2 separate regions of the Homo sapiens genome follow, and region 1 is linked to region 2. Evidence: fine-mapped expression QTL. Tissue or cell type: subcutaneous fat. Region 2 holds a variant in brackets; the other region holds the start of a gene. All regions are shown on one strand. Distances are between the middles of the regions.

Region 1 (8,508 bases), 29 kb before region 2:
TAAAGGGACTATTTGGATGACCAGCCTCACCATCTTTTACTGTGTGCACTTTCCTCTTAAGGTTTTATTGTATTTTCCCTGCTCCTTTAGGCTTTTTTTTCATGTGGAAAACAGTATCTAAATGCCATTCTCTCACTTATGAATTAAATATGGCTACCATTAATGTTCCTTTTTGTCAGTGGAGTGTATGGAAGGAAAATGAGATAGGAGTACATTGCTTAAGTCTCTAAATATTAAAAACAACAACAAAACACTTGCCTTTCTCTTGTGTCATTGCTTCAATGTTCTGTCATCTTCTGCAAGCTAGAGTTGCACTGCTGACATCTAATTAAGATCTAAATATATTTCATGAAGGAATGTCAAATGTAAAGTCTGTTGAGTTGACCATGGTGAACCTCTTGATTGGCCCTCACATTTAATATCTGATTTCTCTCCTAAATGGGTATGTCTATGAGGAAAAGACACCTATTTGTTGGCATTGACCATGGGTATAATAATTTATTCTCTAGGTTTAACTTCTAAAATTATTTTTCCTTTGATTTCTAACTGCCTCCTTCTATCCCTAGAGTAATACCTTGCCTACCTTAAATACATCTTTATCCTTGTAAAAAATGTTTTGGCAAAAAACAAATATATTTTTAAATGTCCCGTAATGTTTTAAAGAAAAGAAGTAAAGTGTATTTGGGCTATGCTCACCAATATTCCAGTATTTTACAAATTGTGTTCTGGAAGATGTTCATTGTGGTCTGAGAACAAATGGTCCTATACTATAATTCTCTCTCCTTGGACATTGACAATAAATGTTAGTGTTTTAATGAAGCTTAAGAAAGTTATTGAATCAGGTAAAAAAAATTTTTTCTAAGCACACCTTGAGAAACCTTTGGAAAAGTTTTCTTTTAACACTAGTTTATATATCCTTCAATAATTGTAAATAAAATAACCAGGAATGCTTTGAAAAAAATGCTTCTGGAATTTTGTTTTAATTTTAAGAGAATTCCTGTCATTTCAAATGAATTGTTATCTATTTTAAATTTCATTAGTATCTCTTAGTGAATTTAACTTTATCATCTAAAATATTCAAAACAAAACAATAAAATTATTTTAATTTTTGTATTATTTTTAAGGCTTGCACCTATGACCAGCATATCAGACCCCTATCTGTTGAAGATGTTTCCAATTCTTTGCCGTGTGGAATTAATGCCAGTGAATAATCTCCAGTAACGTTTTACTAAACAGCTTTAGGAAACTGAATCATGATAGATCAATGTTGACAGTATTTTTACATCAGCTTGTCAGAAATTATATTAAAAACACTTTGGGGAAAGCTAAGAGCAGTGCACTGTTTAGCACAGATTTTGTGAGATTCTATACTCTTTTAATGAGCATTTCATAGGGTTTTTTTTTTGCTGTTTTTTTTTCTTTTTTTGCTTTGCTTTACTTTGCCAATCAGTTACTTTTATACCAAATTAACGAAGTTTCTTTAAAAACTTCCTGGTTAAATTGTCTGTTATCATATAGAAAAGAATCAAACTGAATCACTTTACATTTCTCTAAAGATAGTTCAGTTTTTAATCCATCCAGAGTTTGTGAATCAGCCTGATAGATCATAAGCCATTTATAATTTTTAAACGTTCCATTGAATGAGTATATCATACAAATGTTAATTCCATCTCGCTCATTCAGTTTTACATTACTTTTATGAATTTTTTTTCTCGCAAAGTAAATGCTTGATGTTATTCATTCACCATCACTCTAAGGTATTTTAAATCATACAACAAGTAACTATCACAAGAACCACTGTCCCAAGATCCAAAGTCAGATTTTTTTCCCTTTTCAAGTTGCTAGAATGATAATTCATATAGCTGTGTTGATTTTTCAGGTCAGAATTTAGTTCTTGCTTTGTTAAATGGACATACATGAAAGAGATTGGCTCCTATCTAATTCATATTCTCTCTCTCTCTCTCTCTCTTTCTCTGTGTGTGTGTGGGGGTGTGTGTGTGTGTGTGTGTGTGTGTGTGTGTCTCTTTCCTCTCTGTCTAAGGGGAATTGGAAAATTGCTGCTGAATAATTTTTCTTGAAAAAGCCAAGTGTTGATATGATGATATATTAATCTTATCTATGAACAGAGCTTCACCACAGGCCAAGCAGTAATGTATACAGCTGGCTTTTTAAGCTGTTTGAACACTATTGTTTTCGATTAAAAAGAGTTTTTGTTTGTTTTTCACTTGTATAGTAAAAGATCATATGAATTAAATACTCGGATATTAATTTTCATTCTTACTAAGTGGCCATGTAAGGCATTGATTTTTTTTAAACTTGAACAATGCAAGAATCTAGGAATCTCAGAAAGATTTTGCTGTGTTTCTATAGGTAATGAAATCCTGTCAATTAAGGAAAATGCTGTGTGTAATTTGATTTGGTGGTAGCCTTTATTTAGAGCTCTCTTTGATCTATGTAGCAAAAATACACTAAATTTCTTTTTAATCTTGTACTAAGTACATAATTTCACAAAAATACCTTGGGCATAAAATACTTACAAAACTGTGAATTAAAATACTCAAGATACTTTCAAAATTTAGTCAAAATGTTGATTCCCAGCCTTTTTCCTACACGTCTATTTCAAAAGAGTATACTTTTTTCTGACAGCCATTACTGCTTAGTCTGTAATGAAAGCTTTACTGCTTCTATGCTGTGCTCAAGAGAAAACCAACAACGGAAGCGAAGACTTACTTGCTCCTTCACAGAATTGCAGCAAAGCTCTCTGCTGGGCAATGGTGACAGGAAAGTGTGTAATTGACTTGTTGAAGATAATCATGAGACCATCTTAACATTACTTGCCTTATAAGTTAGAAATAGTATGGATATCACTCTTTGTAAATAATAATTTTTGTAAATGTTTTTTGTTCATAATTTTCCCAATCACCTATTTCACAAAATCCTGAATATGCAATTATTTATTATGACACGTTACTGCAACTAGGGCTCCCATTCCAGAACAAAGTTTAATTCTATATGTAAGTTGTTACTGAAATGTGATTTCTTTTTCTGGAAAATAAATGAAAAATATGAAAATAAATTGAATTGTGAATATCTTTTGCTGTCAGCCTCTTAAAATTTTACCCGCATTTCTGGAAAACTTCATTCCATGTTTAGGGTAGGGATGGTGGGCCAAAGGTCTGTCAAAGGTCAAGGGTTAAGAGTTAGACAAATTTCAGCTCTGTGATTTAAATATCGACTTGAGCATGTTACTCAACGATTCTACATTTCCTTATCTTAAAAAAAAATAGAGTAATGTCCCCTATGTCATAGTCACTGAACAAATTCAATGAGATAATGTTTATTCATCACCTAGCAGTTCCTATCTAGTCCATAGTAGATATTCAATCAACAATCCTTTCCTGTTCTTATCTTTCTGTGAGTAGAGATTGGGATGGGCAAAAATATCTATTTCTCTTCTTCCAACACTATCCTAACACTGTGCTCCACCGGAATCCCAATGTATTACTGTCAGCTAATGCTAATTCCAGCAGGACACTCATCAAGAGCCATGCCCTTGGCTAGATGCTTGGAGGCATCTTGTTTCTGCTTCCAATGATTGCCCACTACAGGAGGGTCCCTATAGTGTTTATTTTGTTTGCTTTTGGTTTGGGGAGGCCCAAACCAGGCTTAGGCTGGGGATAGTCGCTGAAGAAGAGGAAAAGCCCATTCATACCAGCAGGTAGGTCCTCAACCCCAAACAGCCTCATTTCAAAGCTTCTTAGACATTAACAGGCTCAGAAGAGTCTTGTTAAGGAAAGCGAAGGAACCCAGCCCGGTTTGTAACACATTGGAGTTAAGACCATGAGTTTCAGGGGCCTTGGGCATATTATTTAACATTTTAGAATCTCAATTTTCCAAATCCTTTAAAGGGAAAACATTCCTTTCTTGACAGAGTTATTGGGACGACTAAATCCCAATGTTTGTCGGTATCTGGGGTATCTGGCCAATGTAAGTGCTCATTTACCTCCACATTCCACCGCCTGTGCCTTGGAGGGGGAACGTGCGAAGCAGCGTTAGGAGCCGGGAAAAGGGCAGGGCTACTTTACTTTGTCTTTGCGCTTCGGATTTCCTGTGCTAGGAAACCGCAGCACTTCCCACTCCTGCCCCTGATGTCTGCGGGAAAAGGAACTTGATGAGGGGCCCTAGGGGTGCAAATGTCTTTAGTCCCAAATGTCTTCCTCGCTACACAATGAACCAGTTCCCCTCCAGCTCGCCGCCAACCCAGGACGCAGCCCGGCTCAGAGTGACCCCCAGTGGGCAGTGAAGATGAGATCCTCTACATCCTTAGGGCAGCTCAGAGGGCCACTCAGCGGCCAAGTCCGGCCGGGGAGGGCCGAGGGCTCTGTTTGAGGTCACCCTGGAGACCGGCCTCAGAGTCCAGGGAGAGTGCGCGGGCGGCCGCCGGCTGAATGAAGCCTGGGACGCGGGAGCCGCGCCGCGCGCAGTGTCTGCAGTGCCGGAGGTCTGGGAGGCTCCGGGCGAAGCCTCCCTGCTGCAGGTAGGGTCGCCTCTCTCTGCAGCGCGTCTGGACCCCAAAGGAAGGATAGGGGGCAAGGGATCGGCCCTTTGTTGAGAAATGGCCCTACTTGGCCCCGATCTCTCCGCCACCTTATTCCTCCTCTCCCCAACACATAAGAAAAAATGATCCCAAATTTGGGAACTGAAAGTCGGTCCCAACGGTTCGTCCCCTGCCCCATTGCATGGCTGGGGGCTGGGCTTCAAGAGTGATGGCCAACGCAGAGCCGGCCAGCAAGGTCATCCCCTGACCCGGGGCGGTCTTCCTGTGGCTGGCCGCACCCATGAGGACCTCCAGGTCCCAACTCTGGCCTTTCTTGGGGAGGGGGCGGCCTGCAGGGCAGCTTTGGAAACAGCTGAGGCCGAGATGGGTCTATGTGGCTTTGCAGCAAAACCTGAATGACCCACCTAATCAGGCTGTGTGTCTTTCCACACTCATAAACACACTCACCTTCGTACACACGAACACAGACACACTTATACACACAGGCACCTGCACACACAGAGATGCACACTCACAGGTACACACTCAAGGACGCTCACACTCACGTGCACACACACACCACGCTGCCTGCCTCACCCACACACAGCACCTCTGCTCTGACATTGATGCCACTGGGTTTTAGGGTATGTTCTTGTGTGCCCTACCTACTCAACTGCCAGCTCCTTGAAGGCATGGATTCTCTTCTATTTTTATGCTTTGGTGTCTAGCACAGTATTTCCTTATCGGGGCTCTCACATTTATAGATTATGAAATAATTTAAATGAATACTTAAATTTGTAGGTAGACAATGAGGGCATTATTAGAGTTATAGTCCAAGTTCTGGGAAGTCCATTGCTACTACCAGCTTTTTAACAAGTATTAGTAGGAAGGAGGGAGTTTTCCAATAAATTATTTATTTAAAAGTTAAGTCCTATTTGCTCTTTACAAACTATGTAAATGTTGCTCGAGAAAACAAAACAAACAACAAAAAATCTTTGGGAAAGCAAGGTTAATTTTAATTTTTATTTATTTATTTATTTTCTAGCTCCCTACCCCTAATTTTATTTTTTAAAGTCATGGTGGGTCAGGCACAGTGGTTGATGCCTGTAATTCCAGCACTTTGGGAGGCCAAGGCAGGAGGATCACTTAAGGCCAGGAGATTAAGGCCAGCCTGGGCAACACAGAAAGATCTTGTCTCTACAAAAATGTTTAAAAATTAGCTAGGCATGGTGGTGCAGGCCTGTAGTCCTAGCTACTAGGGAGGCTGAGGTGGGTGGACCGCTTGAGCCCAGGAGTTTGAAGTTACGGTGAGCTATGATCATGCCACTGCACTCCAGCCTGGGTAACAAGAGCTAGATCCTGTCTCTAAAATAATAAAATAGGCCAGGTAGAGTGGCTCATGCCTGTAATCCCAGCACTTTGGGAGGCTGAAGCAGGATTGCTTGATCCCAGGAGTTCAAGACCAGCCTGGGCAACATAGACCCTATCTCTACAAAAAATTAAAAATTAGCCCAGCTTGATGGCATACACCTGCAGTCCCAGCTACTCAGGTGGCTGAGTTGGGAGGAACGCTTGAGCCCAGGTGTTTGGGGCAGTAGTGAGCCATGATCATGCCACTGCACTCCAACCTGGGTGACAGAACAAGACCCTGTCTCAAAAATAAAATATAACAGTGACAGCAAATATTAATTAGCAAAGTTGTATTATGGTTACATTTGGGGGGCAATACAAATATTGGTTTCTGATGTAGGATAGCATCTTTCTGCTATACATGCATATCTTTTGTCAATGACCTCCGTCTTCATCAGCTAAGCATTTTTGCTATAGCTTAATATCTGCTTATGTAAATAATTATACTATTGCATAAATAAGCATTTTCAGAGTTATCATAGTTCCAGTTTCACTGATCAGAATAACAACAAATTCTATATATTGCTCTTGAGGAAACCCCACTTTCCTGTTCAAAAATGGTAGGAAAACTATCTGTGTACTTTGAGATTAGTCCCTGTTATACTAACTAAAATGTTTCCGGATCTTTCTTTTGCTATTTTACAAAAGTCTTCTTCCATAGGTTATGATGATGTCAGACAATGCTAAAGGCAGAGCAGCTCATTCATGGAAGAAAAGAGGGAGTATTTCTTCTCTAAGTAATCATGAATTTTGGCGAAAGGAAATTCATGGGCGCATCAAAGAGTGAGTAACTGTCTAAAATTGTAAATTCATTTATTGAATAAATAGGTTCGTAATGTTTATTAGGAGAAAAAAACACTTCCTCGGGGACATAAAAAGAGATAAAATGGGCAAGTACAAGGTGCAGGTCATCTTTAGGGGCCATATTTAAAAAGAAAGAGAAAGAGAGAAAGCTTAAGTGATAAGTTAATCCTAGCAGCATTTTTGCTATTTCAAAAATCATCCCAAAAAACCCTCTGCTCAAAAGAAACACCACATGCAATGTAAACCAGACACGCTTATATGTCTTTTGAGTTCTTCTCCTCAATATTTTATAACATAGGTTTTGCATTTTTGTAATCAATACATACATATACAATGTACTTAACATTATTGTATATAATTTTGTCATGTATTTTCATAGTTTTTTCCATATCCTCTTAAATGACTGCATAATATTTTGTCAATTTATGATTCTGGGTTCCTTAACCATTCTCTAATTATTGGACACTTTAAGTTTGTTTCCATTTTTTTTCTTTTTTACTATATGTCTGTGCTTGGTCATTTCCCAGAAGAATAATTAGTAGGTCAAAGGGCAATAAGTAGATTTTTTGGTTCTTGCTACATGTTGCATCTTCTCTCCTAAAGATATACATCAATTTTTAATATTTTCATGGCATTTCCTTTTGACTGCTGTTGGGAAGAAAACAAAACAAATTATCGACGTAGCAGTCAATTAATAATAGACTTTCGTTCTTAGTTTCTATAGCTTTGGAGGATGTTGTATATTGAGTATATATTGGGAAGCAGGAGCTAGGGTGTCCTGCAGAACAGAGAGTAGAAGAACTGGAATAATTAGAATTCTGAAACCAAAATCTTTCTATTCTCAGAGTGTATTAATGCCTACTTGCAACTCCACATTCCAGCCCTGGAAGTCTGTGGATTACACATACAATGCCTTTTACAGGTGGGAAACTGACTATAAAGGAGTAGCAATCCCAGCACATGTCAGAAGTAAAGGTGGGAGAATGATTAATCTTTGTAATTTTTGCTTCTAAACTTTTCTGGCTGCTATTTCCAATAGTTAAGTGCAAGGGTTATTTTTTAAATTATTTAAAACTGATTGTTGGCTTAAATTCAACTTACGTTTTCCAAGAAACTATTTAAGTAATAGTCTGACATAAATTACGTACCCATGATATTTTTTTAAATACTGTCTCCAAAGATTAAATTGTAATTCCTATTTGCATGACTTTTACTTATCTTTTCCCCTTCAAAACAAATTTGTCATATAGAATCAGAGTGTGGCTACATTTGAAGAATTAGAGATCACTCTTTTTAACCTATTATTGATGAATATAAATACATATTAAAAATAAGAATACAAAAATCATATTTATCAACACATTAGGATAGATTTTTCACTGACAACTACATTTAAATGATAACTATTTTGGTTTTGGACTCCCAAACAAAACATTTAGAATGGAACCTCTATTTGTACTTTTTTTCTTAAATAGCAAATGATCAGCTTCCAAGTCCCCTTGCAATGCAGACTATTTAGGAGGCTCCCCCACCCCATGCTAACTTGTATTAATACTTGCTTTCCATTGGCTTCCTCACTGTCTGGAATTAGACAGTACAAGTTATTCTCCTTCATGAATGAGGCTTCAACTAGTAGAAAAATTCTGAAAGCTTAGTGACTATCAAATACAGGCATTGTTTTGAAATTGCAGTGTTTTATGGAAAAACATATAACTTTCATTTGAAAATTACTTTAAAACAATTTTGAAAATATAAAT
Region 2 (8,508 bases):
AGGTTTCCTCTACTTTCTTTTTGATAACAAACTCTTTAATAAACATTAATGATTAGTTATATTACAGGAGACTCCAGATGTATGGTTTCTTAATTAGACATGAACAAGACAGTGTAACTCCAATGCCAACATTCTTTGACATGAAGCCATCTTAACATAAATTTTCAAAGAATGTAATTTATTAAATTCTGTGTTCTGGATTATAATTATTTCATGTATCTTAGAAAAGGTTGATTTATTGCTGGTGTTAAAATTTTGTTCCTGAATGTTCTATCTCAAGGGGACCATGCTTGAAGGGAATCATACTTACGGTTCTAAAACAATCACTGAAAGTATCTACAATGCATCATGCTATTAAATTAAATCCCTTATATTTATAACAAAGGTTAATGCTTTTGAGTTTCAATGTAGCTGAATGAAGACCCTCCCTTTTTTTAAATTTCTAGGTTATTAAAGCCCAGGTCAAGGACTTGATGATTCCACGGTATAAACTAATTGTGATTGTTCACATTGGACAACTGAACAGGCAGAGCATACTTATTGGAAGCAGATGCCTCTGGGATCCTAAAAGTGATACCTTTTCATCTTATGTTTTCAGAAATTCTTCTCTCTTCGCTCTTGCAAATGTCTATGCAGTTTACCTTGAGTGATTGAAAATAAGAAATCTAGCTCTTACTTTTGAAAATTCTGAGGCAGGCTGTATGTCTGTACACAAAAGTTTTACTGCCAAAAACTTTGAGAAAGAAACAACACTGATATTTCAAGCAACTGGAAGCTTTTGAATTTTTTCATATTCTAGTAAAGATTTGGGGAGGGGAGGGTAGCCACAGAAAGAATCTTGTTTATCTAAAGCAGGAACTTGATCTTGGTTTTGCTGGATTGCTTTCCATAGACATAGATTCTTATTAAATATTTGTTTTGGTACTAATTATTTTAATTATTCTTTAATTAGAGTGTTACAATTTCCTGCATTGTTTTTTAATAAAAAGAAGCTTTAGAAAAACTATGGCTATATACCCTGACCAATAAATGATAGTAGAATATTCAACATGGTATACACAAATGATAAATAATGTGCCTCAGTGCTGCATATAAAAGAATACTGGTTTTCATTTTGTACTTAATAAATTGAGCAGCATTCATTAAGTGCAATTATTGTTACATGTACCTGACAGTTGAAACTGCTGAGGTAGAATTAATGGCTTCATAACAATTATCGTGGTCCCACGGGCTGCAAGCTAAAACTAGAAGCTCTTGTGGCTTGCCTGCACTTTACACAATTGTGGGAGAACCGAAAGTTGGCTCTTCAGTAATGGAAACTATAAAGTGAATAAAGGCTTTTTGGGACACTGAAGTAGACATTGTGATATTAAATATACATGATGCTTAATACTAAATGTGTCTGTAACACATAAAATCATTTATTGGAAAGAGACATTGCTTTTAAATATCCTAGGCTAACAAACTTTTTCACAAAATATATGGCTGGCACCTTAACAAATAAAGCATGTGTAGTTACCATTTTACTCCTATGAATTTAATACTAAAGTGACCCAGTGAGGTTTTTGAATAGACGGGTGCTAAAATTTACAGGGCTGAAATAGCTTATTATTCTGCTGGTTAATGTATCTTACGCCACGGATCATTTATTTTTATGAAGCTTTCAAGTCTTTGTGTGCAAGTAAAATGATGTTGTGGCGTTGTTCTTGGATGGTAAGTGGACTGCCTAGAGGACATTTGTTAAAGGTCAAAGACAAATTGTACACATATGGAGAAAATTAGCAATGCTGTAGTCTTAAGGAAAAAATGATTTATCATTCATATCAAAAAGAGTTTAGCAAATGGAAAACCAGTTAATGCTTTAATTTTAAAATGTTTTGGTGTCTTACTTTTCCCTAAAAATGACATGTAGTAAAAAATGGATACTTTTAAAATCCCTTCCCTTCTGCTATTTTCTGGCTTTTAAAGTGATTATTCAAAATGAATTTGTCAATTTTCACTTTTTTTTTTCTGTTAGTGCATTAGTGGGAATATGTCTATGTAATAATTTATCACAACCAATATTTGTCAATCTCCATAGAACAGTTTTCAATCTGGATTAGATTACACGTATAACAAGTAAATGAGCTTCATATTTTCATTACACATTGGTGAACATCTCCCTTCGTGGAACAACAGCGGGGGTAATCATATCACTAATTTTGTATGAATAAATGAAAATGAAGAAACTTCTTTAACATATACAAAGTCTATTGTAACAATGACTGTTTGTTTTAGAGTTCTAAATTCTAATCCATGAGATAATTTCTTACTGTCTTCCCCAGGCTGTGTTGAGAATCGAAACTGCAAAACATGACGGCAGTTAAAAAACAAAAAAGAAAGCAGTTTGCCAGCATATTGCTACACACTGTAATTCAGATACTCAGTGATGAATTCTAGCAATTATATAGCAGTATAAGAATACATAGTAAAAACTCACTCCTTGCAACTAACTTGGGAGAAGCTAGTTATCACACAGAACTTTATCATGAGAAATTTTTAATGAAATTATCACACAGAACCTTATCATGAGAAATTTTTAAAACAATGACACTATAAATTTGAAGGAATTGTTTTACTTTGAAATGCCCTGAACTTCCCTGGTATTTTTTTCCTCTCCTAAAGTGCCATCCTTCTTCCCAGACCAGCCATGCCCATCCCTGCTCCAGAGCCTTCACTCATGCTTTCCTACCTTGGAACACCCCCTCCCACTTAAGCCACTTTCTTCGCTTTTCAGGGTCACATTCAGGTCTTACCTTTTCTCTCAGTCCTTCTCTATTCACTGCTTGCCTCCTGCTCTCTCTCTCCTCTGATTATTCTCGTGGTTGAGCTCTTGATTGTTCTCTAGCTAACTTTTGAATTCTAGTTTTGTTTCCCTTACTATTAATAGACTGAAGACATATTGAGGACATGGACCACATAACTTGACAGTGCCTAGAAATAAAAATCATTTTTACTTTTAAAGTTATCATTATGTGCATTGCACTGTGCTACATAACTCCCAGCTGCATAGATAATAGCAAACACAGTTCAACCCCTGAGGAACTAGGATCCTATAGGGGTGAAAAGAGAAGTACACAAGTGACCACAGTATAGGCTCAAATATGTTGTCATAAGAAAAATCCAGAATACATTTATCCAATTAACAGAATCAAGGAAGCCTTCATGAAAGGAAAGAAAATTTAAGCTAGACTGTGATGGAGAGATTAGAATTTCAACAGGCAGAAGATTACAGGAAGCCTAGGCTGGATAAAACACAGTGTTCACGAAGATAAGTGGTTAGAACTAAGATTAGAAGGAAGATGGCCAAATAGGAACAGCTCCGGTCTACAGCTCCCAGCGTGAGCAACGCAGAAGATGGGTGATTTCTGCATTTCCATCTGAGGTACCGGGTTCATCTCACTAGGGAGTGCCAGACAGTGTGTGCAGGACAGTGGGTGAAGCACACTGGGTGCGAGCCAAAGCAGGGCGAGGCATTGCCTCACTCGGGAAGCGCAAGGGGTCAGGGAGTTCCCTTTCCTAGTCAAAGAAAGGGGTGACAGATGGTACCTGGAAAATCAGGTCACTCCCACCCTAATACTGCGCTTTTCCAATGGGCTTAAAAAAATGGCACACCAGGAGATTATATCCCACACCTGGCTCAGAGGGTCCTAAACCCACGGAGTCTCGCTGATTGCTAACACAGCAGTCTGAGATCAAACTGCAAGGCAGCAGTGAGGCTGGGGGAGGGGCGCCTGCCATTGCCCAGGCTTGATTAGGTAAATAAAGCAGCCGGGAAGCTCGAACTTGGTGGAGTCCACCACAACTCAAGGAGGCCTGCCTGCCTCTGTAGGCTCCACCTCTGGGGGCAGGGCACAGACAAACAAAAAGATAGCAGTAACCTCTGCAGACTTAAATGTCCCTGTCTGACAGCTATGAAGAGAGTAGTGGTTCTCCCAGCATGCAGCTGGAGATCTGAGAGCGGGCAGACTGCCTCCTCAAGTGGGTCCCTGACCCCCGAGCAGCCTAACTGGGAGGCACCCCCCAGTAGGGGCAGACTGACACCTCACATGGTCGGGTACTTCTCTGAAATAAAACTTCCAGAGGAACGATCAGGCAGCAGCATTTGCAGATCACCAATATCCACTGTTCTACAGCCACTGCTGTTCTACAGCCACCGCTGTTCTACAGCCACCGCTGTTCTGCAGCCACCGCTGCTGATACCCAGGCAAACAGGGTCTGGAGTGGACCTCTAGCAAACTCCAACAGACCTGCAGCTGAGGGTCCTGTCTGTTAGAAGGAAAACTAACAAACAGAAAGGACATCCACACCAAAAATCCATCTGTACATCGCCATCATCAAAGACCAAAAGTAGATAAAACCACAAAGATGGGGAAAAAACAGAGCAGAAAAACTGGAAACTCTAAAAAGCGAG[C/A]GCCTCTCCTCCTCCAAAGGACCGCAGCTCCTCACCAGCAATGGAACAAACCTGGATGGAGAATGACTTTGACAAGCTGAGAGAAGACTTCAGATGATCAAACTACTCTGAGCTACAGGAGGAAATTCAAACCAATGGCAAAGAAGTTAAAAACTTTGGAAAAAAAGTTAGATGAATGGATACCTAGAATAACCAATGCAGAGAAGTCCTTAAAGGAGCTGGTGGAGCTGAAAGGCAAGGCTCGAGAACTACGTGAAGAATGCAGAAGCCTCAGGAGCCGATGTGATCAACTGGAAGAAAGGGTATCAGTGATGGAAGACGAAATGAATGAAATGAAGCGAGAAGGAAGTTTAGAGAAAAAAGAATAAAAAGAAATGAACAAAGCCTCCAAGAAATATGGGACTATGTGAAAAGACCAAATTTACATCTGATTGGTGTACCTGAAAGTGACAGGGAGAATGGAACCAAGCTGGAAAAAACTCTGCAGGATATTATCCAGGAGAGCTTCCCCAATCTAGCAAGGCAGGCCAACATTCAGATTCAGGAAATACAGAGAATGCCACAAAGATACTCCTCGAGAAGAGCAACTCCAAGACACATAATTGTCAGATTCACCAAAGTTGAAATGAAGGAACAAATGTTAAGGGCAGCCAGAGAGAAAGGTCAGGTTACCCACAAAGGGAAGCCCATCAGACTAACAGCAGATCTCTCGGCAGAAACTCTACAAGCCAGAAGAGAGTGGGGGCCAATATTCAACATTCTTAAAGAAAAGAATTTTCAACCCAGAATTTCATATCCAGCCAAATTAAGCTTCATAAGTGAAGGAGAAATAAAATCCTTTACAGACAAGCAAATGCTGAGAGATTTTGTCACCACCAGGCCTGCCCTAAAAGAGCTCCTGAAGGAAGCACTAAACATGGAAAGGAACAACCAGTACCAGCCACTGCAAAAACATGCCAAAATGTAAAGATCATCAAGGCTAGGAAGAAACTGCATCAACTACCAAGCAAAATAACCAGCTAACATCATAATGACAGGACCAAATTCACACATAACAATATTAACTTTAAATGTAAATGGGCTAAATGCTCCATTTAAAAGACACAGACTGGCAAATTGGATAAACAGTCAAGACCCATCAGTGTGCTGTATTCAGGAAACCCATCTCACATGCAGAGACACACATAGGCTCAAAATAAAGGGATGGAGGAAGATCTACCAAGCAAATGGAAAACAAAAAAAGACAGGGGTTGCAATCCTAGTCTCTGGTAAAACAGACTTTAAACCAACAAAGATCAAAAGAGACAAGGAAGGCCATCACATAGTGGTAAAGGGATCAATTCAACAAGAAGAGCTAACTATATATATGCACCCAATACAGGAGCACCCAGATTTATAAAGCAAGTCCTTAGTGACCTACAAAGAGACTTAGACTCCCACACAATAATAATGGGAGAATTTAACACCCCACTGTCAACATTAGACAGATCAACGAGACAGAAAGTTAACAAGGATACCCAGGAATTGAACTCAGCTCTGCACCAAGCGGACCTAATAGACATCTACAGAACTCTCCACCCTAAATCAACAGAATATATATTCTTTTCAGCACCACACCACACCTATTCCAAAATTGACCACATAGTTGGAAGTAAAGCACTCCTCAGCAGATGTAAAAGAACAGAAATTATAACAAACTGTCTCTCAGACCACAGTGCAATCAAACTAGAACTCAGGATTAAGAAACTCACTCAAAACCGCTTAACTACATGGAAACTGAACAACCTGCTCCTGAATGACTACTGGGTACATAACGAAATGAAGGCAGAAATAAAGATGTTCTTTGAAACCAACGAGAACAAAGACACAACATACCCGAATCTCTGGGACACATTCAAAGCAGTGTGTAGAGGGAAATTTATAGCACAAAATGCCCACAAGAGAAAGCAGGAAAGATCCAAAATTGACACCCTAACATCACAATTAAAAGAACTAGAAAAGCAAGAGCAAACACATTCAAAAGCTAGCAGAAGGCAAGAAATAACTAAAATCAAAGCAGAACTGAAGGAAATAGAGACACAAAAAACCCTTCAAAAAAATTAATGAATCCAGGAGCCGGTTTTTTGAAAAGATCAACAAAACTGATAGACCGCTGGCAAGACTAATAAAGAAGAAAAGAGAGAAGAATCAAATAGATGCAATAAAAAATGATAAAGGGGATATCACCACTGATCCCACAGAAATACAAACTACCATCAGAGAATACTACAAACACCTCTACGCAAATAAACTAGAAAATCTAGAAGAAATGGATAAATTCCTCGACACATACACCCTCCCAAGACTAAACCAGGAAGAAGTTGAATCTCTGAATAGACCAATAACAGGATCTGAAATTGTGGCAATAATCAATAGCTTACCAACCAAAAAAAGTCCAGGACCAGATGGATTCACAGCTGAATTCTACCAGAGGTACAAGGAGGAGCTGGTACCACTCCTTCTGAAACTATTCCAATCAATAGAAAAAGAGGAAATCCTCCCTAACTCATTTTATGAGGCCAGCATCATCCTGATACCAAAGCCTGGCAGAGACACAAACAAAAAAGAGAATTTTAGACCAATATCCTTGATGAACATTGATGCAAAAATCCTCAATAAAATACTGGCAAAATGAATCCAGCAGCACATCAAAAAGCTTATCCACCATGATCAAGTGGGCTTCATCCCTGGGATGCAAGGCTGGTTCAACATATGCAAATCAATAAATGTAATCCAGCATATAAACAGAGCCAAAGACAAAAACCACATGATTATCTCAATAGATGCAGAAAAGGCCTTTGACAAAATTCAACCACCCTTCATGCTAAAAACTCTCAATAAATTATCTATTGATGGGACGTATCTCAAAATAATAAGAGCTATCTATGACAAACCCACAGCCAATATCATACTGAATGGGCAAAAACTGGAAGCATTCCCTTTGAAAACTGGCACAAGACAGGGGTGCCCTCTCTCACCACTCCTATTCAACATAGTGTTGGAAGTTCTGACCAGGGCAATTAGGCAGGAGAAGGAAATGAAGGCATTCAATTAGGAAAAGAGGAAGTCAAATTGTCCCTGTTTGCAGATGACATGATTGTATATCTAGAAAACCCCATTGTCTCAGCCCAAAATCTCCTTAAGCTGATAAGCAACTTCAGCAGTCTCAGGATACAAAATCAATGTACAAAAATCACAAGCATTCTTATACACAAATAACAGACAAACGGAGAGTCAAATCATGAGTGAACTACCATTCACAATTGCTTCAAAGAGAATAAAATACCTAGGAATCCAACTTACAAGGGATGTGAAGGACCTCTTCAAGGAGAACTACAAACCACTGCACAATGAAATAAAAGAGGATACAAACAAATGGAAGAACATTCCATGCTCATGGGTAGGAAGAATCAATATTGTGAAAATGCCCATACAGCCCAAGGTAATTTATAGATTCAATGCCATCCCCATCAAGCTACCAATGACTTTCCTCACAGAATTGGAAAAAACTACTTTAAAGTTCATATGGAACCAAAAAAGAGCCCGCATCGCCAAGTCAATCCTAAGCCAAAAGAACAAAGCCAGAGGCATCACGCTACCTGACTTCAAACTATACTACAAGGCTACGGTAACCAAAACAGCATGGTACTGGTACCAAAACAGAGATATAGATCAATGGAACAGAACAGAGCCCTCAGAAACAATGACACATATCTACAACCATCTGATCTTTGACAAACCTGACAAAAACAAGCAATTGGGAAAGGATTCCCTATTTAATAAATGGTGCTGGGAAAACTGGCTAGCCATATAGAGAAAGCTGATACTGGATCCTTTCCTTACACCTTATACAAAAATTAATTCAAGATGTATTAAAGACTTAAATGTTAGACCTAAAACCATAAAAACCCTAGAAGAAAACCTAGGCAATACCATTCGGGACATAGGCATGGGCAAGGACTTCATGTCTAGAACACCAAAAGCAATGGCAACAAAAGCCAAAATTGACAAATGGG

Evidence for each region. PIP is the estimated chance that this variant, and not a neighbour inherited with it, causes the effect.
Region 1: it holds the start of DYNLT5, and the variant in region 2 is fine-mapped to the expression of DYNLT5 in subcutaneous fat (GTEx, PIP above 0.99).

What each region holds. Positions count from the first base shown.
Region 1 is chr1:66,748,048-66,756,555 of GRCh38, forward strand. It overlaps DYNLT5 (dynein light chain Tctex-type family member 5), which reads left to right and starts at 4,412. Exons shown (of 5, transcript NM_152665.3): 1 at 4,412-4,537; 2 at 6,609-6,730. The coding sequence starts at 6,612. SGIP1 (SH3GL interacting endocytic adaptor 1) reads left to right here. Exons shown (of 25, transcript NM_032291.4): 25 at 1-3,092.
Region 2 is chr1:66,776,805-66,785,312 of GRCh38, forward strand. It overlaps DYNLT5 (dynein light chain Tctex-type family member 5), which reads left to right. Exons shown (of 5, transcript NM_152665.3): 5 at 447-2,243. The coding sequence ends at 650. Among named protein-coding and RNA genes, the nearest start is that of INSL5, 20 kb to the right of the region's middle. The variant C/A (reference allele first, on the strand shown) is at 4,454.